Homo sapiens: one gene and its partner. The protein of the gene in region 1 interacts with the protein of each later gene in a pairwise test. Each region holds a gene or a part of one and is shown in the gene's direction. Other genes may lie near its edges.

Region 1 (13,322 bases):
CTTACAGTTTCACAAGGCTGGGGATGCCTCAGAATCATGGTGGGAGGCAAAAGGCACTTCTTACATGGTGGTGGCAAGAGAAAATGAGAAAGATGCAAAACAGGAAACCCCAGATAAAACCATCAGATCTTGTGAGACTCATTCACTACCTTGAGGACAATATGGGGAAAGTGCTCCCATGATTCAAGTTATCTCCCAGTGGGTCCCTCCCACAACATGCGGGAATTATGGGAGTACAATTCAAGATGAGATTTGGGTGGGGACACAGAGCCAAACCATACCAATGTGGTTATGTGAAAGTTCAGGGAGGGGTTGCTGTGGATGGGTGGTGGAATTGATTAGAGTATTAAGATTGTGAGGTCTAGCTTTATGCTCCATTTTATTCCCAGTAAGTAATATTTTTTCCAGAAGTCTTTACAGTCACAAGTAAATGAGTCTCAGCACAGACGGGCCTGAGTCCACTATGATTATCCTAGTCTTGTATGAAGAACTTTATATACATATTTTTGTAATTGTTGTATTATTCAACATCATAAATATTTAAACATCAAAAACATTACTTCTGATTTTTTAGTGCCAGATTAAATGACTCTTACCTATTAGAGAAGACAGGAAGTACATGACTAAGACATTCATGATAATTTTGTAGCTCTCTGATGTTCTTTAACACTCTAGAAAATTAAGACTACCTTATGAATTTTTGTGTCCATTCTTTGGAGAGAAATATTATAGCACAAATTTCTTACTGTAACATGCTCCGTTAAATTTTTCTGCTGTAAAGGATCAAGCAATAGAAATACACTTACTTTTGTTGTTTTTCCCTTTCTGTTCATGTTTATTTTATAGGAGTTTCTTTGGAATGTAGAATATGTATACCTTATTGCAGATAAATAATAACTTTTCCTTTTTAAAAGGTAACCTAGAGGATAAAGAAAGGTTTACGGGTGCTGATATCTATGGCTTATCTGACAGAGTATTCCTTATTATTTCCAAAATTTCTATATTGCTGTCCTGCATTATACACATGTATTTGGCATGTGAGCTACTTACGCTTAGAAACGATGTATGAAAGAGCAGCAGAGTGACAGATGTACCTCCAGAAGGATATTTAAATTGATTTTTTTCTTAATACCTTTGGTTTTTTTCCGTTAAATTCCCTCTAACTTTATATGTCAGCTCACATAATACAGTTTATTGCTATTATGGCTGGCTTTGGCACTATTGTTTCCTAGTCATTTGATATATTTGGAGAAACATTTAATATTTATGAATGCCACAAAGGAATATTTTACATTTTTTTAGGTCTTTAGCTATTCCTTTTCTTTACACCCTTTCCCTTTTAGTAAAATAAAACACTTTTATAGAAAATATCTTGCTTTATCAAAAATTCATTTACAGTTTTATGGCCTCTTAGTTGGATTATCTTTTACTCAACTTGGCCCTCAATTTTATTTTGCTTTATTTGGATTTTTCATTTTTTGTGGCATCTGTGATATGTTGATTTATTAGTCAAAGGACCATAGAAAATTTTCAGAACTCCCATTTTCTGAACAATTTTGAAATTAAATGAGGATATAGCCATTTATTATAAATCAAACCATTGTCATTTTTATAGGAAAAAATAGAAGAGAAAGAAAGAGGGAGGGAGGAAGGGAAGAAAATAAAAAGAGATGGAAGATGTTAAGCTTTTTTTTCTTTAGTGAAATAAATTGTAAAGCTGAAAAGGACTCTAGAAATATCTAGCATAGCGATTTCCAACTTCTTTGAGTATGAAGCCCTATTTTTAACATACGTATTGTTTTTCAGACCCCGCATAATAGCAATTGTTATTTTGGTAAATATTGATCAGAATATATGGGAAAAGATTTATAAATTAAGTGACATTTTACAATTAAATTTACATTTCATTAGAAGCATAGCATCTATATATATTTGGAAAATTAGTGCATATATGCAAATAACATATGACATTCTGGCTGGGTAGAATAAAGATGAACATTAGGAAAGTTTATGAAATAACAGTATTTCTGCAGTAGAATCTCATTCAGTCAGGAAACACAGAACTTCTCCAATTCATTCTTTTTATATTTATAAAGTGAAAACCAAACAGAAGAGGAAAGTTGACCAAGATCAGATTAATGAAAAATTTAGATTAATGTTTCTGCTAGCCAAATAATCTTACCGTAGTACAATATCACCCCCAATAAGGAGTTAGTCAATTATGTATCTAATAACTCAGATCAGACCCTTGAGGCAAAGATGACTTTAGCTTACACATTTTTTGTTTGATTATCTCAATTTTGTTTGGTTGTATTAACATATATTAAGGCAAGATTTAGTAATTAAGCTGTGATTAGAATAAAAAGTATTGGTTTATACCAGATTACCAGCAATAGAAACAGATTTCATTACTTTAAATTAATAAAGAAGCATTAAAAAGAAATTTTAATTGAGTTGATAGTTAAACATGCACATATATTTATATGATTCTTTAGATCTGATAGGATATATTACTAGTAATGGAGTTCTATAAATATTTTTAACTGATCACCTGAATGATCAGAGCATGCAACAGACTGAACAGTTATGAAATTTTAACTTCAAGTTATAGAAAATCATGTGTATTAATGTGTATAATTCTTCATTATATTTCTGATATCGTTATGAACAATGAAATTCCCCTAGACAGCCCTGCAAAAACTGACTTCTGGGATTATGAGGAAGGTGGAACTGGCTCCTGAATGAGGTAGGTCATGTATTCTACAGCATAGACATGTTTTGAAAAGAGCAAGTAAATCTCAGGTGAATTTGGCCAACTGCTTATCCTTACATTTAAGCCAGTTACACACCCACACAGATGCCAAGGTGTCATCTCTAAAATATTGGGAGGGAAAACCTTGGATTCAATGCTGTCTTACTGGAAGTGATAACCAAGCATTACTCAGATAAAAAAAAAAAAACTTTTTGCCTATTGCTGAAGTGGTTATATAGTAATGATTTTACTTTTAAACTTTCAAATATTTATTTTTCTATATCCTGGCAATACTATTGATAGTGCTCAGGAGAATCATTAACTGTTATTAGATAAAGTATAATAGAATAAATAATATTGGTTAGTTAATGTTGGATTCTGAAAACATCTCAAATGTATTAATGTAAAGTTGTAATAATTTTAAACATTGTAACAAATCTCCTTTGAAGATCCTATTTGTCACTGTTCGATCTGGAGCGCAAATGAATGAAGCCTGCTGTGACTTAGGCTGAAGCCACTGTATGGAGTTGCCCATGTGAAGAGCCACTGAGTGCAGATCAGTGGCTGGAATTTAGGCTGTCCTTCCTTGAGACGTATTGATGGGCGCATGAAGCAGATGCTCACTGGGAATTGCAGACATTTGAAAGTGAATGGTGAGAGTGAAGGAGTTCGTGATATATTTGGGATATTATATAGATTCCATAGTATACCCTTAAGAGTCCTGATATCACTTTTGAAAACGTTGGATTCCAAATAGTGTTTCTCTATTGATGTTTCAGAGCCTCTGGAGATTCAGCGATCGACTTATTCCTGAAATTCCTTTGTGGCCACTTTTACTGAGATCATCCTTCTATTTGGGGGCTTGAAGAAAGTGATGCATTTTAGGTGTTGAATAGATGCTGAGCTCCTTAGCCTAATCAGTTTGAAGTTCTCATTTGAGTCTTTTTTTTTTTTAATGGACAAAGACCCTTAACTTGTGGGGGACCTCTCTCCTGACTGCCAGTCATATGGTCTTGTTTGGTATGAGCTGACCTGGAGCCCAGCTCCAGACATACACAATTCCTCACATAACCCTAAAGTCTCTTCTCGCTTGCCCTAGAAAGAGCCCTTAATTTCTGGATCAATTTGCAAACAATTCTTAAACTTCTAATTTTGTTTAGTTAATTTGGAACTAAAATGTGTCATCAGAAAACCATGTGTCTTCTATGACACCTTATGCATATCCACAAGAGGGAAAAATTAAAATCCTTTGTTAATAAAATTATTGAATATTTGTTGCTTTCCCCCAACTCCCAATAACCTTGTAACATTTTTCCAAAATACAATTTTGTTGAAAAATTTTAATTCATAGCCCCTACTTTTTTCCATATTGTATGGGAAAAAAAAGGAAGCCAAGAGAAGCTTCCATCAGGGCTCTCCAAAGAGCATGCCTAGTAACACTCAGATTTTATATTTAAGACAACTCAAACTGTGATCTCTGAACTCAGTGATGACCCATCCAGATGTTTTGAAGTGACGGAGACACAAACAAAAAAAGCTGTTCTTGTCAGCCAGTCACCTTAAAAAACATCATATCTAAAAAGAACCTGTAAGAATTTATTTTCCTGATAAGTCAAACAACATCCAGAATAACTGCTGAACAGCCTTAGTTAATGAATGTGGCCAACTTAAACTGATATAATTCTAGCCTAAAGATAAGAAACTGTATGTTAGGAAGTCTGTGCAAACATATTGAGGATACAGTTATTATTATAGTTTGGGCTTCCTGAATTACTAATACCATGAAGATCCTTCCTGACAAAAAATGCCTTCATTCTTGCTAGCTTTGTAGGCATGAGAGACATTTGGGCCTACTGATATATAGGAATATCTATCTAGTGCTTATGTTGTAATTTACTGGTATTCTTTCCCAAAGAAGGACCTGTTTACAGTAGCTCTGGGCATGAGTAACTGAGAGTAGGGTGGCATGAAAGGGGAAAGGAGATCCCCTTCAGAACCCTAGTTCTACAGGTATTTGGAGAAGCCATGGGTATCACCACCATCAACCTTGACTGCTGCTAAAGAATTCCTGCAAATATGCCTCCAAATGAATTTCTTATCTATGCTAGCCATGACACTTGATTCATCCTTCCATTACAGCATTTATACACAGAGTTATTATTTTATTTCTTTCTCTACACTGGACTCTGAGCCCCTGGAGGACAGCTCTCCTACCATGGCTATGCCCAGTGATGCTCTTTGACATGGTTTCCGGGGCTGAGCTATAGCTCTGTTGCCTGGAGGCGTATCAGTTTTCCATTTTTCATTCAGAATCCCAGCAGTGTCTGTTTCTCGTGAATAATTAGCTAGTGTGAAAGTCACAGAATCCATAGCCTCTACAAGGTGCAAATTTATTAACTGCCCATGATTCTGCAATGAATTAGTGTTTTTAAAGGGAATATAAGAAAAAGGAAGTGATAGAATAGACATTATTGTAGTTATTTTAGAATTCTATTTTTTTTTTTTTTGAGACAGGATTTTGCATGTCCCCAAAACTGGAATGCAGTGGCTGGATTGTAGCTCACTGCAGCGTCAAACTCCTACCTCAGCCTCTGGAATAGCTGGGACTCCAGACGGAGCTAGAATTCTACTGTCACGAGTAGGGTGCATTTAATAATCTTTAAGGTCTTTCCAAGTGCTAAAATTTCTGATTCTGGAAGATTTGTCCTTATTGTATCAGTATTTACTTCCTTTTTCCAATAAAACAGTCCAACAGATGCTTACAGTGTACCCGTGGCTTATGAAACCAAAGACAGGAGGAAGTTAGAGGAAAGTGTACTTCCTATAAGACAAGTAATGTTATTTAACAAATTCTCATGCATTTAAAGCAACATAATGAGAAAATACCAATTCTACTGAAGCTCATTATGAGAACATTTTCAGAGTTCATACTATGGACTTGATATACATTAAATTCTTAAGAACTTCTCTCCAGTATTCCTGGAAACTAGGTATCACAGTCCTTGGGTAGACTGTTTTAATAAAGAGAGCAGGTCAGGTTATGAAAAATGCAGGTTTTCCAATGAGCTTTACTTCTAATGTATATCGTAGATCACTGATAGATGATTGCAAAGAAATACATACATTTCATTTTACCTCCAGGAAATTCCCAAGAATTCAGAATGCCTACTTTGTGTTGACGGTTTTCTCTGGAGTTGCAAACACTGAGAGTGAAATCAGTTTCGAAAACCATGCTTCAAATATTCCTTTCAATTTGCTCTTGTGGCAGTTTTCGTCAAACAACCTGCTTGGAGATAATCTATTTGCAGAACCTAGGTGGGGACAAACCTGCCACATTATATAATTCACTGAGCAGGTTTTGGCTCTCACTTCACCAATCCATCTTAAATAGTGGCTAGTGCCCTGCATCTAGCAATACATATGATTAAGCAATTTAGCACAGAAAGAGAAAGGCCACACAACTTGGCAACCCCGTAGACATTTATCTTTGAGAAAACTAAACGGATCCAACTTTTTGCCAGAGTTTAATAGCAAAGCTGTCACATTTTACACAAAGAGTATCCAGTCCGCTAGCGAATGGAAAGAGGGGACAGGGAGGAGGGGACCAGAGGAGGCGGGCTGCTGACTGGACTGTTTTCAAAGGGGCTCCCGTGTTTAGGGGAGGTGCTGGGATGCTCCACATGGCTGGAGAGACGAAGTAGTTAAAAATTATTACTAGGGAGGGGGCCGGAACCTCGGGACGTGGGTATATAAGACGGTGCCTGAGCGCAGAGCGGCTGCTGCTGCTGTGATCCAGGACCAGGGCGCACCGGCTCAGCCTCTCACTTGTCAGAGGCCGGGGAAGAGAAGCAAAGCGCAACGGTGTGGTCCAAGCCGGGGCTTCTGCTTCGCCTCTAGGACATACACGGGACCCCCTAACTTCAGTCCCCCAAACGCGCACCCTCGAAGTCTTGAACTCCAGCCCCGCACATCCACGCGCGGCACAGGCGCGGCAGGCGGCAGGTCCCGGCCGAAGGCGATGCGCGCAGGGGGTCGGGCAGCTGGGCTCGGGCGGCGGGAGTAGGGCCCGGCAGGGAGGCAGGGAGGCTGCAGAGTCAGAGTCGCGGGCTGCGCCCTGGGCAGAGGCCGCCCTCGCTCCACGCAACACCTGCTGCTGCCACCGCGCCGCGATGAGCCGCGTGGTCTCGCTGCTGCTGGGCGCCGCGCTGCTCTGCGGCCACGGAGCCTTCTGCCGCCGCGTGGTCAGCGGTGAGTCAGGGGCCGTCTCCCCGAAGAACGAGCGGGGAGAGGGGACCACGGGGCGCGGCGGGCAGCCTGTTCTCGGGCGGAGGCTCTCCGGGGCGTTGGAAACCTGCATGGTGTAAGGACCCGGGAGGAGGCGGGGAGAAATTGATTGTGCTGTTCTCCTCCCTCTCTTCTCTAACACACACGCAGAAAAGTTTAAATTTTTGTGAAGCGCTTGCTTACGTAGCTGCGGAGCGAGCCTCTGCTTCATTACGAGCGGCATAGCCTTTTTCAGGAGTGATTTCCACTTTCTTTGTGAGAGAGTTGACCACACGGCCGGGCTCAGCACCTGCCAAAGGGGTGGGGTAGGGCGGAGGCAGAGGGAACCCAGAGACAGAAGAGCCACCGCAGAAATGCCACCCTCTGTCGCTCTGACTGGACTTTGGTCCCAGCACCGTGTTCACTCGGATGCTTTCTGTGACCAGATCAGTTCGCTGTGGGTCGCCTCCGGATGCCTGGGCATTCGGTCTTTGTTCTCAGCAGGACTACTGGCAAGGAACTGAAGTGTGGTCATTGCGTGTAGATGCCTTTCCTTTGCACACTGCGTTCCAAGTTGGGGACTTCCCAGAAAATGAAGTCAGCTGGAGTTGGGCCGAGGTATACTTGGTAATGACTGCAGGTTCGGCACACAGTAGGTGCACAATTAAGTCGGTCGAGTCAGTGCATGGGAAATCGATCAAAATTGGCAAGCTTCCCAGGTTGTCTTTGATTTTTCTTTTTTTGACTCTCACTGTCCTGTCGTTGAGCGATTTATATTGCAATTACTCTCCCTTACTTTTTGGGACGGTCTCTTCAAAAGGATACAGATTCTCGACAACCTAGGGTGAATGTGCTTAGGGCCTTACATAAAGGCTGATCATAGCTACACTTTATTGAAATCTCTTACTATGCTCATTGAAACATTGCAATAAGTATTTGTTGGATATATGTGTTTTGAGGGTGAAAAGTTTTTTTAAAACATAAAAAGCACAAATAGCCCTTTTCACTTTTGTACACCTATACAACAGGTGTCACTAGATGTAGAAATAGATGACAGATGACAGCAAGTAATTCAGCTGTGAAGCCAGACCTTTAGACATTGGCATATTAAGCTTAATTGTCACTGATCTTCCCCTTAGCAATTTGTGATGTTCTACAGCTTCAGAATATAGTTCTTACATGTGTAGTTACCGATCACTCTACACTTTTTTCAGAATTTTCAGAATCTGTGACATTAGATCCTTTTCCTCCCTAAGTTAGCTGCAAAGAAAAAATTCATTATATAGACTCATCTGATTTTGTGAATTACTTATCTGTCTTTGTATTTATCAGAATTATTCATGCAACTGAATGAAAAGCAGAGACCATGCTTTGAACATAAGATGTTTTTTACTCATTGACCTAAATAATATCCTTTAGATATGCTCTTGTTCCTAGGCCTCAACATTTTAAAGGGAGGAAAAATAATATCTAAAGTAAAAACAGAGCTTAAAAAATTGTTGAAGAGGTGTATTTTGCGTTCTATGAGTACATAATTTTTTCCAAATCTTTTGTTAGGTTTTCTTATTAAGCATTTATAGGCATCTTGTAGGTGACATCTGGAAAATTTCTAATTAACTGAACATGATCTATTTGATTTAGCATAAATGATGATGTTTATTTGATATTAAAATAATTAGTTATGTTTTCCTTATGAATAATTCAATTGTCTTTGGTCATAAAATTCACATTGAAATTTAACCATCTATAAATTGATTTGTGACTTTTATTATTTGAAGACTAATTTCTTAAAAAGATATATTTTGACCACAATGGCCAGAGAACAGAGCAGCCTGAAGCCTGACATTTTTGTAGCAATAGTTTCTAATGGATCTATTGTCTACCTGGTCAATGTAAGTTTTGAATTGGTGCATCAATTTTTCGTGCCACTTGGGACCATTCACCAAATCTTTATTGAAGAGTAAGAGCCTCTTTGGGGCTGTTATTAGGAACATACTTGCAACGTATGGAATATATTTCTATTTGTTAAATTTCAGTACAACAATTTATAATTTCTATGTAGGATACTCAAATAATCACTGACCGCAGAAAAATAGACACTCACAAAATAATTCTCCACATAAATTATATTTAATACCTTAAAATATTCAATAAGGTACTTTCCAATACTTTTAAATACATCACCTTTTCTAAAGTTTAGAGCATTACCTAAAAATAAAGTGGATATATTTTAGCAAGAAATGACATTTCAAACAACTTCGTCATCGTAATCTGACCCATGAGATTTAGTGGCATCTAGTAGTAATAAGAAAGTATTTTTTCTAGGTCAGTGGTCATGATTATTTTGATGTACGAATATGCAAAACAAGATGTGATATGATGATAGTAATCAAAGCCTATTTATTGAATTTATGATGCTAATTTGGAAACTACCTTTAGGAGCTTAGACCTGTACTGATTTCTTACTACACACAGATGTGTAGAGAATATCTATGGGAGCTGCAATCATTTAATTTTGTGAAGTGACTGGTGAGTAGTGATGTCTTCTTTAGGACAAAGGTAAAAGGATTTTACTTGTAGGCATAAGGATAAATATGAAGGATTCCAAATTCAGGTCTCTAAGTTGGGAGGATATGTTTGAAGAGCAAGTGATACTTTTAAACATTTGAAGTGTTTTGAAGTAATGTGTTTCTTTTTTTTTTTTCCTTTTTTCTTTCTAGTGTGCATAGCAGTGATCCCCAACCTATTTTTGCTGCAAAATGACATTAGGAATATTTCATGGTGCTTCCAGATTTCTCCAGGACACTTTAATATATATCAGTTTAACTTTATTAAAACTGGCACATGTTTTATTTAGGAGACTGGGTGATTTAGAGGCCTCTCTTCTTATCCTGTGGATACCATAGAATATTGCAAATTCATGGGTGGTGAACAGTAGCACATACATTAATACAATATGATATAATATATACCAAGGGAGATACAAGAAAAACTGCTGAGCCTTTCTCAGCCTATGGAACTAATCTATGACATCATCAAAAGCATAAAATGATGACAGTGCAGTTTTCAGAGATGCAATTACTTTAAGTATCTCTCGGGCATGAAAGGAACAAATTAATCTTATTACCAGTCATTTAATGAACTAACCATTTATCATAGCCATTATTCTTCAACTGCTGTTTGTCATCATTTTATGGTTTTGTTTTATAACTCTTTCCCAAAGATGGCAGTATCTGTTACATTACCTTTATAAAAGGTAATGTATTTTATATATATATATAAAATATATGTATAATACATATATAATATATATAATACATATATGTATATATTATATACATATATATGTATAATACATATATGTATATATTATATACATATATATGTATATAATATATACATATATATGTATATAATATATATGTATAATATATATGTATATATGTTATATATAATATATGTGTGTATATATGTATATGTGTGTATATATGTATGTATATTATATATGTATGTATATTGTATATGTATGTATATATACATTGTATATGTGTATATATATGTATTGTACCTATAATATAATACATATATATGTATAATACATATATATGTATACATATATATTATGTATACATATATATGTAATATATACATATATGTAAATATATATTATACATATATGTATTTATATATAATATATATTATACATAATATTAATATATATAATATTATATATATTATATATAATTTACTATATATAATATATATATAATAAAATATATATATATAATAATATATATATAATAAAATACATATATAATAATATATATATATATAAAGGAGTCCAAGGTTAAAATTCAGAAGATGCACTCACAAACAATTTTTACTATTTACAACAACTTTCTGTGTCAGGAATTCATATACAAGTAGATGGATGTGTGCGACTCTAGGATGAGAGTGTTTCTTTTACTATTTTAACATATTCCTCATGATATAACACAGGATGACAACTTGGCTAAAGTTATACTCTTTGTAATGTGGAATGCATTCAATTTGGATCTAGTTTGTTTTATTTGGAAAATAAAAAGACTAGATAAAAATTTATTAAAGGCATATATGGTTTGAAAATCTGAGACAGAGGCAACATTAATTCTTATTTAAATATTTGTAACAGAAAATCTAATTCTGTTTAGAAACAAGCTCTCAATGCACAAGCCTTGCTTATATTAGCCACCCAATAATCAATAACAGATTAATGCTTATGATTCTGACATAGATAACATGCACAGTGTTTGTGTTCATCAATCCCTTTTGTTCATGAAATATTTCACCTTTATATTAGGTTTGAGACATATGGAGACAGCATAGAAACCTGGTAAAAGCATGGAGTGTAGAGCCAGATGGCCTGGTTTCACAACCCAGCTTCAGCACTTGTGAGCTGTGTGAACTGCCCTCTTTGCCTCATTTTGAAAACAGATAAGAGCACCTATGTCATAGGATTGCTAGGAATATTAAAAAGGTTCAAACACAGTTATGCAGATTGTGCACTGTGTCGAGGTACAAGCCAAAGAGACAGGAGAAGGAGCTCAGCTTGGCAAGCCCAGTGCCTGTAGCTCAAGCTACCTAGAGGCAAAATCAACTTTTTCTAGTTGAACAGTCTATAAGAGGGACCTTTCTGCCATCTCTCACCAGGAGAGGTCGTCTTTTCCCAATTTATCCCAAAGCATGGATTGTGGTAGAAATGAGGTGCTACATTCTAAATTATTGCTAAATTTGAGGCTTTTATTATTAGAATCATTACTTCTATAAAACTCATAACTGGTCTCATTATTTAAGTAAGAAGACTGAGGCCAGGGGTGATTAAATAATCTCAAGTACCCAAAGTTCAAGTGTAGAGTTTGGTTTCAAAGCTAATTCATTTTGATTGGCTACATGAACTCTTAAGTCACAATGATACTTGGTTTACTACTTATTATTCTAATCTCCATTGTAAATATTCTGATTTTTTAAAAAAATAGTCTCATGCTCTTCTCAGAAAGCTTACGCATTTTCCAACTGGAAAAGTAGGGCTTGCTGCTGCTGCCACCATCCAGAAAATGACCACAACCTACATTTATAAACTTAATTTAAAATTATAAATAAAATTATAAATAAATTTGTTTATTAATGTAAGAAAATAGACTCCAGCTATAGTGCACTATGCAATTAAGTACATTATAAAATCTCTGTTGTAAAAATAAAAGTTTATTATAATAAAACTCTTTATAAGAAAAAATTTTAAGAAGTTGGTGTAACATTGAATGCTGAACGCAGAACACTTGAACACCAGTCATTTTCTTTTTAGTTCAAAAGTGTTGGCACTGGTATCACAGTCCTTGCTGCACTGTGTATGGTAGTATCAACATATTTATCAGTGTGATTGTGAGGGGGGTAAGAAGAAATTATGAAAAAGAAAAAAATATCTTGTGTGATTCTAATAAAACATTCTAAGTTAATTCAGTCTGGTTTGGGGAATATTTACCATGTGGATGCTCTTTTTTACTTTTTTTTGCAACTAATGGTAGATCATAATTGAACAGCAGGAATTTGTAATATGTCTTTTATATTTTTATTGAAAAAGTGATATAAATTCAATATTCATCTAATATTAATAATATATAATTATAGCGTGAGATATTAGAAAATATTTATTATTTTCATAACTAACTGAGCACTCAACTATCAGAAAATAAACAAATATAAGCAAAAAGAAAACCAAATTATAGATCCTTTCTGCTCAGAAAGAAAAAGCAAACTACCCTGACTTCATGAGTTTGGCCCCACTTTATATCATTGCCAAGAGCATTTAAACCTCTGCCAATAGTTAGCTCTATAGAAATTTTAATGGCTAAGGAAAAAGACAAAAATCATCTACTTATTCATGGAAAGAGTGATGAAATCTTTGTTGTGACAGTGATAGGAGTGTTAATAATAATAACTTTCTCTAAATAAAAGGGCCTGTTTATTTATGTAGCTGTGTGTGAAACTAATAAGGATGAATATTTCTTTTATATAAAATAAATGTATTTTATTTGTTTTAATATATAAAATATGTATTTTATTTATTTTATTTATTTATTTTAATATATAAAAATACATATTTATTTTATTTATTTTAATTATTTATTTTAATATATAAAATAAATATTTATTTTAATATATAAAATATTTATTTTATTTATTATTTTAATATATAAATATTTATTTTATTTATTTATTTTAATATATAAAATATTTATTTTATTTATTTATTTTAATATATAAAATATTT
Region 2 (12,672 bases), on another chromosome or scaffold:
TACCCTTTCTTCCAGTTGATCGCATCGGCTCCTGAGGCTTCTGCATTCTTCACGTAGTTCTCGAGCCTTGGTTTTCAGCTCCATCAGCTCCTTTAAGCATTTCTCTGTATTGGTTATTCTAGTTATACATTCTTCTAAATTTTTTTCAAAGTTTTCAACTTCTTTGCCTTTGGTTTGAATGTCCTTCCGTAGCTCAGAGTAATTTGATCGTCTGAAGCCTTCTTCTCTCAGCTCGTCAAAGTCATTCTCCATCCAGCTTTGTTCTGTTGCTGGTGAGGAACTGCGTTCCTTTGGAGGAGGAGAGACGCTCTGCATTTTAGAGTTTCCAGTTTTTCTGTTCTGTTTTTTCCCCATCTTTGTGATTTTATCTACTTTTGGTCTTTGATGATGGTGATGTACAGATGGGTTTTCGGTGTGGATGTCCTTTCTGTTTGTTAGTTTTCCTTCTAACAGACAGGACCCTCAGCTGCAGGTCTGTTGGAATACCCTGCTGTGTGAGATGTCAGTGTGCCCCTGCTGGGGGGTGCCTCCCAGTTAGGCTGCTTGGGGGTCAGGGACCCACTTGAGGAGGCAGTCTGCCAGTTCTCAGATCTCCAGCTGCGTGCAGGGAGAACCACTGCTCTCTTCAAAGCTATCAGGGACATTTAAGTCTGTGGAGGTTACTGCTGTCTTTTTGTTTGTCTGTGCCCTGCCCCCAGAGGTGGAGCCTACAGAGGCAGGCAGGCCTCCTTGAGCTGTGGTGGGCTCCAGCCAGTTCGAGCTTCCCGGCTGCTTTGTCTACCTAAGCAAGCCTGGGCAATGGCGGGCGCCCCTCCCCCAGCCTGGCTGCCGCCTTGCAGTTTGATCTCAGACTGCTGTGCTAGCAATCAGCGAGACTCCGTGGGCATAGGACCCTCCGAGCCAGGTGTGGGATATAGTCTCGTGGTGCGCCGTTTCTTAAGCCGGTCTGAAAAGCGCAGTATTAGGGTGGGAGTGACCCGATTTTCCAGGTGCGTCCGTCACCCCTTTCTTTGACTCGGAAAGGGAACTCCCTGACCCCTTGCGCTTCCCGAGTGAGGCAATGCCTCGCCCTGCTTCGGCTCGCGCACGGTGCGCGCACCCGCTGGCCTGCGCCCACTGTCTGGCACTCCCTAGTGAGATGAACCCGGTACCTCAGATGGAAATGCAGAAATCACCCGTCTTCTGCGTCGCTCACGCTGGGAGCTGTAGACCGGAGCTGTTCCTATTCGGCCATCTTGGCTCCTCCCCCCGAATTCAAAGTTTTAACACTGGGATGTTTGGGAGCATTGAGCTAAGTAGGGGAGTGGAATATGATATGCTTGTGACATTGTAATATGCTATAGATTAAATGAGTTTTTATTTCACTTAGAGGTAAATAGTACTAGTTTAACTATGTAAATTAAGCTTTAGTACTGTTGCTCTTGCATGATTTATTTTCATTAAAATAACTGTAAGAGATGAAAAAGTATTTTCTTTTAAAATAAGATTTCAAGTATAAGAGATAATTTCTCAACTTTCATATTATTGGAACAATTAATTTGATGTAGGTTTTATTCATACTTTGTTTCTTCAGAGATGTCTGTAGTGGGAGTATTTTCCCAACGCTTTACTATATAAAAGTCCAGCATGTTGATGTTGCTCCTGACCATTCAACTAAAGTAATGGAATTCAAACAGAGAATCTTAAAAAAGAAGAAAAAAAAGAGAAAAAAAAGAAATAAAAATATCAATATTGGTAAAAAAAAAAAAAAATCTGTAATCTGAAAAAAAAAAGAAAATTGAATATTGTCTACTATTATCTTTCACTTTTATTTAGAATCTTTCATTTTTTGATTTTAGACTTTTCATATGTCAGCAAGCATTTAGTGACTACCTAGTATGTGCTAGGGTCCTACTCTTCATGTACTAAAATTCAATCTGAATATAGGAGTTAGGCTAATCTTACTATGTCCATACTTTTAATGAGGTTATGGGATAGTATAAACACAGATGATGAAAATTAAAAGAATTTTGTAAAAGAAAAATTCCATTCCAATATATTTAAAAGATACATTTTTGTATAATAAGGCAATTGTCTTTTCTAGGAAGATGACTCTTCCATAGTTTTCGCGGACCTAATTAGGACAGTTTTTAATGAAAACAAAAGCCTTTTCTCTTATGCAAACTTTGTGTTTTTGGCACAGAGCTTAATCGTGTGCTGTTTCACTCCAGATTAGAGGAAATTGCTAGTTGGTGGTAGTTCAGTGTTTTATGAAGAACTCCTTTATTTTCATTAAAAATAGTAGTTGTCTTATAACATTTTTCACTACTGAAACTATTCTGATACCTCCCAAACCCATATGACATCCTTCTCTAACCTGTCCCATACACACTCTTAAATGAATCTACTGATGTTTTTTAAAATTAAATGATTTAGGGAAAGTGTATGTGGAGGGAAATGCCATCTGTTTTTCGGATGAGTTTATAGGGTTGATTTCAGTTTACTAATCAATTGAAACCAGGGTCAGCATTATTTCTTCTTTAGAGCCTTTAGAAAATGAAATTTCTAGAAATCAATTTGTTTAAATAAAATTGTTTTAGTATAATAATTTGGTTGGGCTCTAGGGTTTTGTCATTGGATTTTACTTATATTCTCACAGTATACCCAGAATCCAAATACATTGTTTTCTGTCTCTTACTTTGACTATAACAATAGTGTCTTATTTTTTTAGTCTTTTAAATTAGAAACACACAAAATAAGACATATGTAGAATAGAACAGCAGCATTTATGGCAAACACATTTATACCAAAGGCTTAGAAGAAAAATCTCTTAGAGTTTTATGTTGAAGGCTTCCTATAAAATCTTCTAAACAACTGTTGGTAAATTTCAGCATTACCCACTTGCCTTCATTAAATGGATTTTAATTTCTTTTCTTTAGAAAGGGAGTTCTGGGAATTATGTAACAAGTGTAATTTGATGAGACCAAAGCGTTCCCATCACTGTAGCCGCTGCGGCCACTGTGTGAGGAGAATGGATCATCACTGTCCATGGTAAGAATAATTCACTTCTAGCAAAGAAAAGAGGGGTGGGTAATAAAATGTAAATCTTACAACTTGGCAGCTTTAAACAACAGTTATGTTAAAGTTATATAGTTTTACAATATCTTAATAAGGATATCTTTATTTAGATTATATGGTTCTGTCAACTCCCAAAGTCATTTTTCCACAGAAATCCTATCTTTTCTAACAGGGAGAGATTTGAGCCAAAAAAGTAAGAATTAACTGCAGCCTGATATACAAAAGGATTAAGGTGGTTGTATTAAATGAGGCAATGTATATAAAACATTTACTACAATATCTGACAAGTAGGATGTACTTAAATGGTAGCTATTTCTAATTGTAATAAACCATATGCATCCGAATGTTTATATCCCCTTTTCATTTGTTTAATTAATAACATTTCAGACACCCTGATAACCTCTTCCTTACCCCTTAAAGCTTTTTAAGCATTATGTATTGGATATAGCTACTACCATTATGTACTTGTTGGAAGTATGTGAGTGATAATTAGCTGATTCTGCAGAACTGCTAACAGTTTTGGTCAATAGGGGGCTCTCTTGTAATATTTAAAGAAAATGTTCAGTTGAGAAATATAATCTTCGAAAACAAATGCTGCGTGAATTCTGTATTGTATCTCATTTTAAAGCTGTCACAAAAATCTGTGAACAAGATATTGTATTTAATTCTGTTTTCTTAGCATTGGCTCTCTGTATAAATATTTAAACTGGTATAGTGTAGAATTTGACAAATGTATCTGTATACATATATGTAGTATTTATGTTTGTATACACATACATGCATATATGCAAATTTACATAATGAGCCTCTTAATTTATAATTGCTTTTATTTAAAATTGATGCAAGTGGAGTTTAGCTTTTTCTAATGTTAGTCTATTTAGAGTTTTCTTTATTTTTGATAACTTATTTTGATAGCACAGTTATTCAGCAAACTTCTGGTGGAAATTTGTTTTTTTGCATAGACTGTTTAAAAAGAAGATAATTTCCTGAAATAGGAAAAAGTAAGAGCATTTTCGATAAAAGCATTTTGTTACTACATAAAAATTTTAAAAATTTCTAAATCTGTCAACAAGATAGAGTAGTGTATGACATATAGTTGATATTCAAAACTGTGCCTTGAATTTAAACGTAAATAATTATTTGGGAATTACTTGGGAATAAAGATTAATTCCCAAGTAATTTTCTTAAGCTCAGTGATCTGTTTGCTCTCACAATAGTAATAGATTTTTAGAAAGCTACGTGAAACATGTATTCAGATAATTGCTGATCATACAGAAAAGCTCAGTTTTTAAGCGCTTCTTATTGTAGAGTTTCTTATTCACTAAAATACAAATGTTCATGATGGAAGTGGATATTGATGCTTTTTTTTTCAAACGAATGCAGTAGTAAGAAAGAACTAGGAAAGACTCACTTATTGGTGACCAAATAAGGTGCTATTTAACCTTAATTCTAACGTTGGGGTGATTTCTCTTTCTGGGCCTCTTGCTTCCATAGTTTTAGTCAACTTTTCAGAAGTTGGTAGCAGTGAGGGGGAAGTACAAAGGATTGGAGGATCAGAAAGGAGAGTAGACAAGGGACCTAAAGAGATTCAGGAATTTTTATCATTGAATTTCCTGATAGAGCACTGCTGAAATGTTCAGAGAGCAGGGGAAATGTACAGTGTAAATTGGAAGCAAGGAAAATTTTTGATGTTTTCAGAAATTGCACTACTTAACTGCCTAAGACATTTTTAGGTTTGGAGGTCAATTCTCACGTTGCCTCAAGGTTTTCTGTATTTGTGGCTCTGATCATTCTTTTTTTTTTTTTTTTTTTTTTGAGATGGAGTCTTACTCTGTTGCCCAGGCTGGAGTGCAGTGGCATGATCTCAACCTCTGCCTCACTGCAACCTCTGCCTCCTGGCCTCAAGTGATTCTCCTGCCTCAGCCTCCCGAGTAGCTGGGATTACAAGTGCATGCCACCATGCTTGGCTAATTTTTGTATTTTTAGCAGAGACGGGTTGTCACCATGTTGGCCAGGCTGGTCTCAAACTCCCAACCTCAGGTGATCTGCTCCCCTCGGCCTCCCAAAGTTCTGGGATTACAGGCTTGAGTCACCGCGCCTGGCCTGATCATTCTTTCTAAGTAGTGCAGATGTTACAAAAAGAACTCATATAGATTGAATACCTTAGTGCTTCTTAAAGCTGTTCTGGTTAAGAAGAATGCTGTGATCATAGACATTGTTTCTCAAACTTCCTGGGGACAGGAAAGATGGAACAATGATAAGTCATCTTTCAATCGGCAGCTGTTGAAGAGCACTTTTGAGTGTATATTAATACATAAGCACACTTCTCTTATAATCCTGCTTGCAAATAACAAAGCACAGTAGATTTTCTTGTTTACAAAACATGCACTCTTAAATCTTAAGAAATGCCTCTCTAAGGTTTTTCAGTTCAGGTCTGTATTTGACTTTAAAAAATGGTTTAATGACAAAGTTAAAAAGAGCGATTTAAGTTAGGACCGAAACCTGTTACATCGTTTCTTTTTCAGTGACAGTATAATACTATTTTGAAATGAAAACATTTGTGCAAAGTCATTTGTAGTCTTGAACTAGGGTTTTTTGCTGGAATTTTAGGATACTTTGACAATTTGGATACAATAAATTTGGAACAATAAAATATTCAGCTTAAATTAGCCTTGAAAATTTTTTATTGTAACATTAATCCTCTTTCCTAGTTAGGGTTCACTGTTGTATTGGTGGAAGTATAGCTGTGTGTATTTATAAATAGTTTTGAATACATTTTTATTTTCAGCAACCAGGGGTAGATTTTTAAAATGAAAAGTGAATGCTTAGCAGTTATGTCAGAGTGGTATGTTTCAGCTGGTTTACTTCAGGGCATTCAGATTGCTTTTCACAGCTAGAATGCCCTAAAGGAAGAGCAAAATACAGGGAAGCAGGGTTCTTGCTCTCTTGGCCCCTATGTCTTCTAACTCTACATCCTCTGGCCAGAGGCTTAGCTCCTTTGTTCCCTGTTTCCATATCAGTGACACAGGAGACTACCGTCTGCTCTTCCTGTCTCGCTGAGTTGTTATGAGTTGAAGGGGGATCACATATGTGGACTTCCTTTGTGAAGTGCTTTACAAATATAAGATGGTATATTTATAGTTTTCTCTGTATAGTTTGTTTTTACCTTCAAGTGGCCATAGCATATCTCCATGAAGTTAAGCATATGTGATATTATTTGTTTTTAATTTAGTCTTATTGATCCTGAGGTGAACTTCTTGAAATTTAAAATATTGTTTCTTTTTCATTTTTTTTCTTTAGGATTAACAATTGTGTTGGTGAAGATAATCATTGGCTCTTTCTGCAGTTGTGTTTCTACACTGAACTTCTTACTTGCTACGCACTGATGTTTTCTTTCTGCCACTATTACTATTTTCTTCCACTAAAAAAGCGTAATTTGGTAAGAAATGTTTATATTGGGAGGCCGAGGCGGGCGGATCACGAGGTCAGGAGATCGAGACCATCCTGGCTAACACGGTGAAACCCCGTCTCTACTAAAAATACAAAAAATTAGCCGGGCGAGGTGGCGGGCGCCTGTAGTCCCAGCTACTCGGGAGGCTGAGGCAGGAGAATGGCGTGAACCCCAGGGGGCGGAGCCTGCAGTGAGCCGAGATTGCGCCACTGCACTCCAACCTGGGCGACAGCGAGACTCCGTCTCAAAAAAAAAAAAAAAAAAAAAAAAAAGAAATGTTTATATCCACTAACATTAGAGCAGTTGTAGCATACAATTATTAACATGTGGTTCCTTTAAGTACAAAAGATTGGAAACAAAACAACAAAAGATTGGAAACAAAACAACAAAAGCAAACTCCCAAATTGGTGAATTTTGAACTATATTGGGATTGAGAAAGTGGGCCCTAGTCTGACATTTCCTTTTAATGAAATTCATTTATGGTTATTTATTAGTGTTGAGCTTAGAAAGCAACACGTTGAATCTTTCAATACGTGTGTCTTGGTTTAAAAATATCTACAATAATGAAAAACAAAGACAAAATGTTCTTGTTTCTTTTCAGGAATAAAAATGCAGAATGTAATTTTTAAAGGTTCTCAAATAGTTACGTTCTTGAGAAAGAGAACTTTTTTTCTCCCTGCCTTTCATCAGTAATGATATCATGAATTTGCAGGATGCTTTAAAAAGTTATCCACTGAGAATATAATGCATGCTAGGACTATAGTTTTAGAAATGTTTCATCTTATTTATAGATAAATTTCTGATATAATTGGCATTAAAGTTAGATCATGTAAAAGAATGTACATATTCCCTGGAGTAATCTGTTTCAAATAATTGAGCCTAATAAGAAAAGCATTAAAATAAAATTCCTCAGTAAGATTAAGGTAATAATTTTTTTAAGCGACAGAGAAGTAGAGTTTAGTGGTGTTAATGAAAAACAAAGACAGGCTAAGAGGTAACGAATGCATTGTAGTATAGTGCAGTATTGGCAAACTATGGGCCTTGGTTTAAATTCAGCCCTCTGCCTGTTTTTGTTAAAAAAAAGTTTTACTGGAAAACAGCTACTTTCTTTTGTTTATATATTGTCTATGGCTGCTTTTGTTTTATAAGAGCAGAACTGAATAGTTGTGGCAGAGACTGTATGGTCTGTAAAGCCTAAAATATTAACTGTCTGGCTCTTTTACAGTAACTTTGCCAGCCTCTGGTAGTGGAAAGATCTTGTCTTTGTAAACAGACATACCTAGGATTAAAGCCTGTTTTTTCTTATTACATGCATAAGTTTTGACACATTGTTTAACCTCTCTGAATGGTAATTTTCTTCCACTGAAAATGTGAATAATAATGAGATTAAATGAAATAATATATGTAAACTTAGCTGGTATATAATAGACATTCAATTTATGTTACATTTGATTTTAGTGAAAACTCTCAGAGGGAGGAAACAATTTTTCTTTGGCCTATTAATTTTCATGAAAATTTTAGAGACCGTTTTACAGTAACCATTTATTACTGGAAGATTGATGACCAACTAAGGAAATTCCAATAATCAAATGAAGTATTAAGACGTTTGAAATTACAAACTAATTTTCTTCTCCAAATGAAAGGTAGAAACTGGAGAGAAATTAATGGCAATTAGACAGTCACCTTTTTTTAAAATGGAGAAATGGATTATGGGTTATATTTGAATATACGACATATATGTGTATATTTACATGCATAATGAATGTTGGAAAAAGATCAGCAGCATAGTAAATGTTTATTAAGAGATTAAAAATATCAGGAAGAAGAAAGTATATAAAAAGTGAGTATAAAAAGTGGGTTTTAAAAAGTCAAACCAGATTTTCCTTAGAGCCATCAATTGTAGATGCAAGCAGGTGATTTTTTTAAATAAAAATCATAATAATATGTTAGTAGCATTTTAGCAAATGAAAATCAAATCATTATGTTGGTTGTTAGAAAGCTACTTTAGGAATGAAGCAGTACATTATAAATAATTCTAGGGATCTGACAGTTACTTGTGTCTAGTAGTGCTGAGCAGAAATCGTTCTCTTAGCCTAAGTCTTATGGTTTCCTTGTTGTATCAAGCGGTGTACTTTTATAATTACCACCATATTAGCAGTAATGAAATGAAAACTCAGATTATGTTATGAAATTTCCAGGACCATTTTGCTTCCTATTGAGGAATCGAGTAATTTTTAGTTTTGTTTATGATATATTATCTCAATGTTTTAGTTTTGTTTATATGTTATCTCAATGAATGAAGTAATTCATACATATTATCAAGTTAGGTATATGGAGAGAAGAGCTTTACCACAGTATTTCCCATTGTAAGAAAAGACAGACAAATTTAAATACATAAAATTGAATGTTTATTAGCACTGTTCTAACCTACTTAAGTTTAATAGAGTAAAGCTAAATTCTAGGACCAGAATTATAACTAAACTTGAAGAAAGTATTTTATAATCTATGTAGCTCTAAATATTCCAATGATCTGAAGCAAATGAATGTTCAGTAGTTAGTCAATATACATTGAAATGAATTCCAGTCATTTCATTGATTTAGAAGTTGAGAGTTTGAAGCTACATTATAGACACATCCAAATTTCGTTATACCTTTTTGGTGGATTGATTCTTGTATCATTATAAAATATGCCTCTTTATTCTTAGTAATGATTCTTGCCTTCAAATTTTTTTTCTGTTATTAGTTTAACTATATCAGTTGTCTTTTAGTTAGTGTTTTCATGGTATATCTTTTTCTGTCTTTAATACTTTCAACCTATCTTGATTACTGTGTCTCATAATGTGCCTTACAGACAGCAGATATTTCATTAAAAAATTATCTTTTAATATGAAACATTTAGTAAATATTTACTTAGTATAACTGGTATTTTGTCATTTTCCTATTTATTATTTGACTTCATCTGTTCTGTGTTCCCATTTTTCTCCTTTTCTTTCCTGTTTTGGAATTTCTAATTTAAAAAAAATTCCAATTTTCTATTTCTAATGGCTTTTTCTTTTACTCTTTTTATAGTTTCCCCAAAAGTGAAAACATTATTCTGATTTTTTTGAAGTATAATATAAGTTAGTACTTTACCATTGTGCACCTAATGAAAGCAGTGGTCTTGGAACACCCTCTGTCATCATCATTTTTCATATTTTGGGGTAGAAGGTAGATGTAGAAAAAAATCACATGATAACAAGACATTATTGTTGTTACATATACATTATGTGTTATATTGTTATACAAGTTATATGTTACCTATAGTCAGTATTTGTTTTGAGTTATCTACATATTGGTGCTTTTTCTAGTACTCTTTATACCTGAGCCTCCTCTAGGCTTATTTTTTCTGCTTTTAGTGCAAGTCTCTTGGAACAAATTCTCTCAGTGTTGGTTCCCTGAAGATGCTTTTATTTCTCCTTCATTTTTGAAGGATTTATTGTTTGGCACAGAATTGTAGATTGGTGGTTACTTTCGTTCAGTTTTTAAAAGATGTTATTCCATTGTCTTATGGTTTCCATCATTTCTGTTGTAAAGTCAGTTGTTGGTCTTACTGTTACTCCAATGAAATATGTTTTTCTTTAGCTGTTTTTATGATTTCTTTTGGTCTTTGTATTTTAGCAATTATTCTGTGATTCTATGATGTGCTTTGGTATTGTTTTCTTTGCACTTTTTTCTGTTGGAGAGTTTATGTAACTTTGAATCTGTGGCCTGATGTCATTCTTAAGTTGTGGAAATTTCTTGGCCTTTGTCACTTCAAATATTACCTCTGCTCAATTTTTTCTCCTGCAGTTCTGGGATTCTACTTACATGTACGTGAAGTCTCATTGTGCTGCATATGTTCTGAATTTATTTCTTAACTTTCCTTTTTTATTCCCCCTCTGTGCTTCATTCTGGATATTTCCTATTAATTTATCCTCTGGTTTACTAATCACCTCTTCTGCCATGTCTAACCTACCCTTAAATCCTTCTAATGAGTTCTTAATTCAGTTATTATATTTTTCACTTTTAGAATTTCCATTTGATACTTTCTTTCATTGATAATTTCTGTGGTGAAATCATCTATTTTGTCATCTATTTTTTTAAACGTGTTAATCACAGTTTTTAATGTCTGTGTTTGATAACTTTAACTTTGAGATCCCCTTGTGGGTCCGTTTCTGTTGACTCTTTTTTTCTTCTCAATTTCCAGATATTTGGCCCTGTCTTCTGACATGTCTAAGTTAGAATACTGAGCATTTTGCATGACAAATTGTAGAAAGTGTGATTGTGTTCTTTCCTCAGATTTGATTTACTCTTTTTTTTTGATAGGATATAAGAGAAGCCTCATTTTTATCCAATCAGGGGTTTGTATAACAAGAATTTCTAATGCTAAATAACAGAACATTGGTCTTAATATAGCAGTTTTTGGAAAGATGCTATTTATTGCATTTATTGGTATTTTGTAAGGAATCTTGATTGCTGGATTTGTCTTTGTGAAAGACTAGTTTCAATTTGCCTTTATTCCAATAGTCTAGTCCTTCGGGGTCTCAGCTGAAAAACTGAGGTGTTTATTGTGGATTGTGCCCTACAGTTACTGTTTTCCTGGCCTTGGAGATTTTGCAGGATGTTCTGAGTCTCCGGTTCTACTTGACTTTTCATTCAGTACTGAATGTGAATTGACAGGTACTTTCAGATAAAAAGCAGTGCAGAATATATGGCTCACCTTAACGCCTGTCTACTTTCTCTGAGATTTTGGCCTCTTAAGTTCTGGGGAGTTTGGCTACTTGCCAGTATCTTTAAACAGCTGTGTATTTATTAATTAATTGGATTTTATCTGGCTTTTAATAGTGTTTTTGGTGTGAGTGTTGGTCTCATACGAACTGTTTCCTCATAGGTGTCAATGGCAATAGCATTTTGTTTAAAAAATTTCTTCCCAGGTGATTTTAATCATTGCTGCCTAATTGCATAACTCCAGGAGGCAACACTCACATCATAGTCTATGTAAACAGTATCCTGTGGAGTTGTGCAGTGCAAAACTTCTGTGGCCATAAGGTCTGAGAAGTGCTGTAGAGTAGGGAATGAGACTCATGGTGGACTTCATAGGTGAGATAGAGATTAACCAAATGGGGAGATGAAGGAGGTCATTGCTGGGCAAAAAAAACAACAAAACCCTTGAGGCTGTAACTGGAATAATTGGTTTTAAGGGCAAATCTTTAGTAAAATTCCAGCAGTATAACAAACTTCTCTAAAGCTAAATAATAAAATAATGTTCTTACTTCAGCAGTTCTTTTGTAAATTACATTTACTGTGTTTTTCATAAAGGTAGAAAAAAATTACCAATAATTTCAGAACCAAAGTCACCATTATTACCATTGACATTTAAAAAAATAATGTTTTATGGTGGAATATTCTTCAAAAAATACTGCCTCATCAGTGTTTTTTGCAAGTCTTTTCCTGTGTTTCTTTCATTTTTCTCTAAAACAAGCAAAAATCTGTATCCAGCTGTTGATTATGTGTATAAAACTATGTGTGAATAAAGACAGTATCAGGAACTTCATCTTATTATCCTTTCTATTATTCAGGATATGGAATAAGATCCCCGAAGGTCCCTAACTATCTTTGGATATTGCATTAATGATTATTATACATATTTTTTGTGGGAGTAATGATGCAGTTAAAGCATGTGGTGGACTTTGACCCTGTGTTCTTCTGTCAGCCAGACTGAAGCAAAAGCTGTAGTCTGCATTTTCTTTCTACCCTTTCACGTAGATAGGTGGCAGCATAGTATCTTTTCTAGCCCATCTTTAAATTCCAAAGCTGAATGGAATTGCCTGGGTCAGAAGAGAAAGTGTTAACTTTCTTGTTTTTCTTTTCTTGTTTTTTAAGGCGAAAGTGTTTATTCATTAAACAACAACAACAAAAAAAATGAGTTGCACTTTGACCATTGATGTAATGGCACTTAACCTGTATTCAGTAGAAAACTGGTACGTTGTATGTTATGCTCATGGTAAAGACAGTTGAGAGAAAGCAGGTTGTTCACAAATTCTGGGAAATGAACAGATTGGGAGCCTGATTTTCTTCCATTTCTCTCTTCTCCTCGCCTTCTGTTTTCAGGAGAGCTCTTTCTGAGCTGGATTATTTTAATTTCT

Evidence for each region.
Region 2: the proteins of CHODL (region 1) and ZDHHC21 interact in binary tests that used the Homo sapiens proteins (3 or more experiments, as listed by UniProt).

Annotation. Positions count from the first base shown.
Region 1 is NC_000021.9:18,238,303-18,251,624, forward strand, and holds the start of CHODL (chondrolectin isoform a precursor), read left to right. Parts: upstream 1-6,530; 5' UTR 6,531-6,921; coding exon 6,922-7,000; intron 7,001-7,572; exon of another isoform or gene 7,573-7,645; coding exon of another isoform or gene 7,646-7,667; intron 7,668-13,322. UniProt on the Homo sapiens protein: May play a role in the development of the nervous system such as in neurite outgrowth and elongation. May be involved in motor axon growth and guidance.
Region 2 is NC_000009.12:14,652,573-14,665,244, reverse strand, and holds part of ZDHHC21 (palmitoyltransferase ZDHHC21), read left to right. Parts: intron 1-2,918; coding exon 2,919-3,030; intron 3,031-6,357; coding exon 6,358-6,496; intron 6,497-12,672. UniProt on the Homo sapiens protein: Palmitoyltransferase that catalyzes the addition of palmitate onto various protein substrates. Palmitoylates sex steroid hormone receptors, including ESR1, PGR and AR, thereby regulating their targeting to the plasma membrane.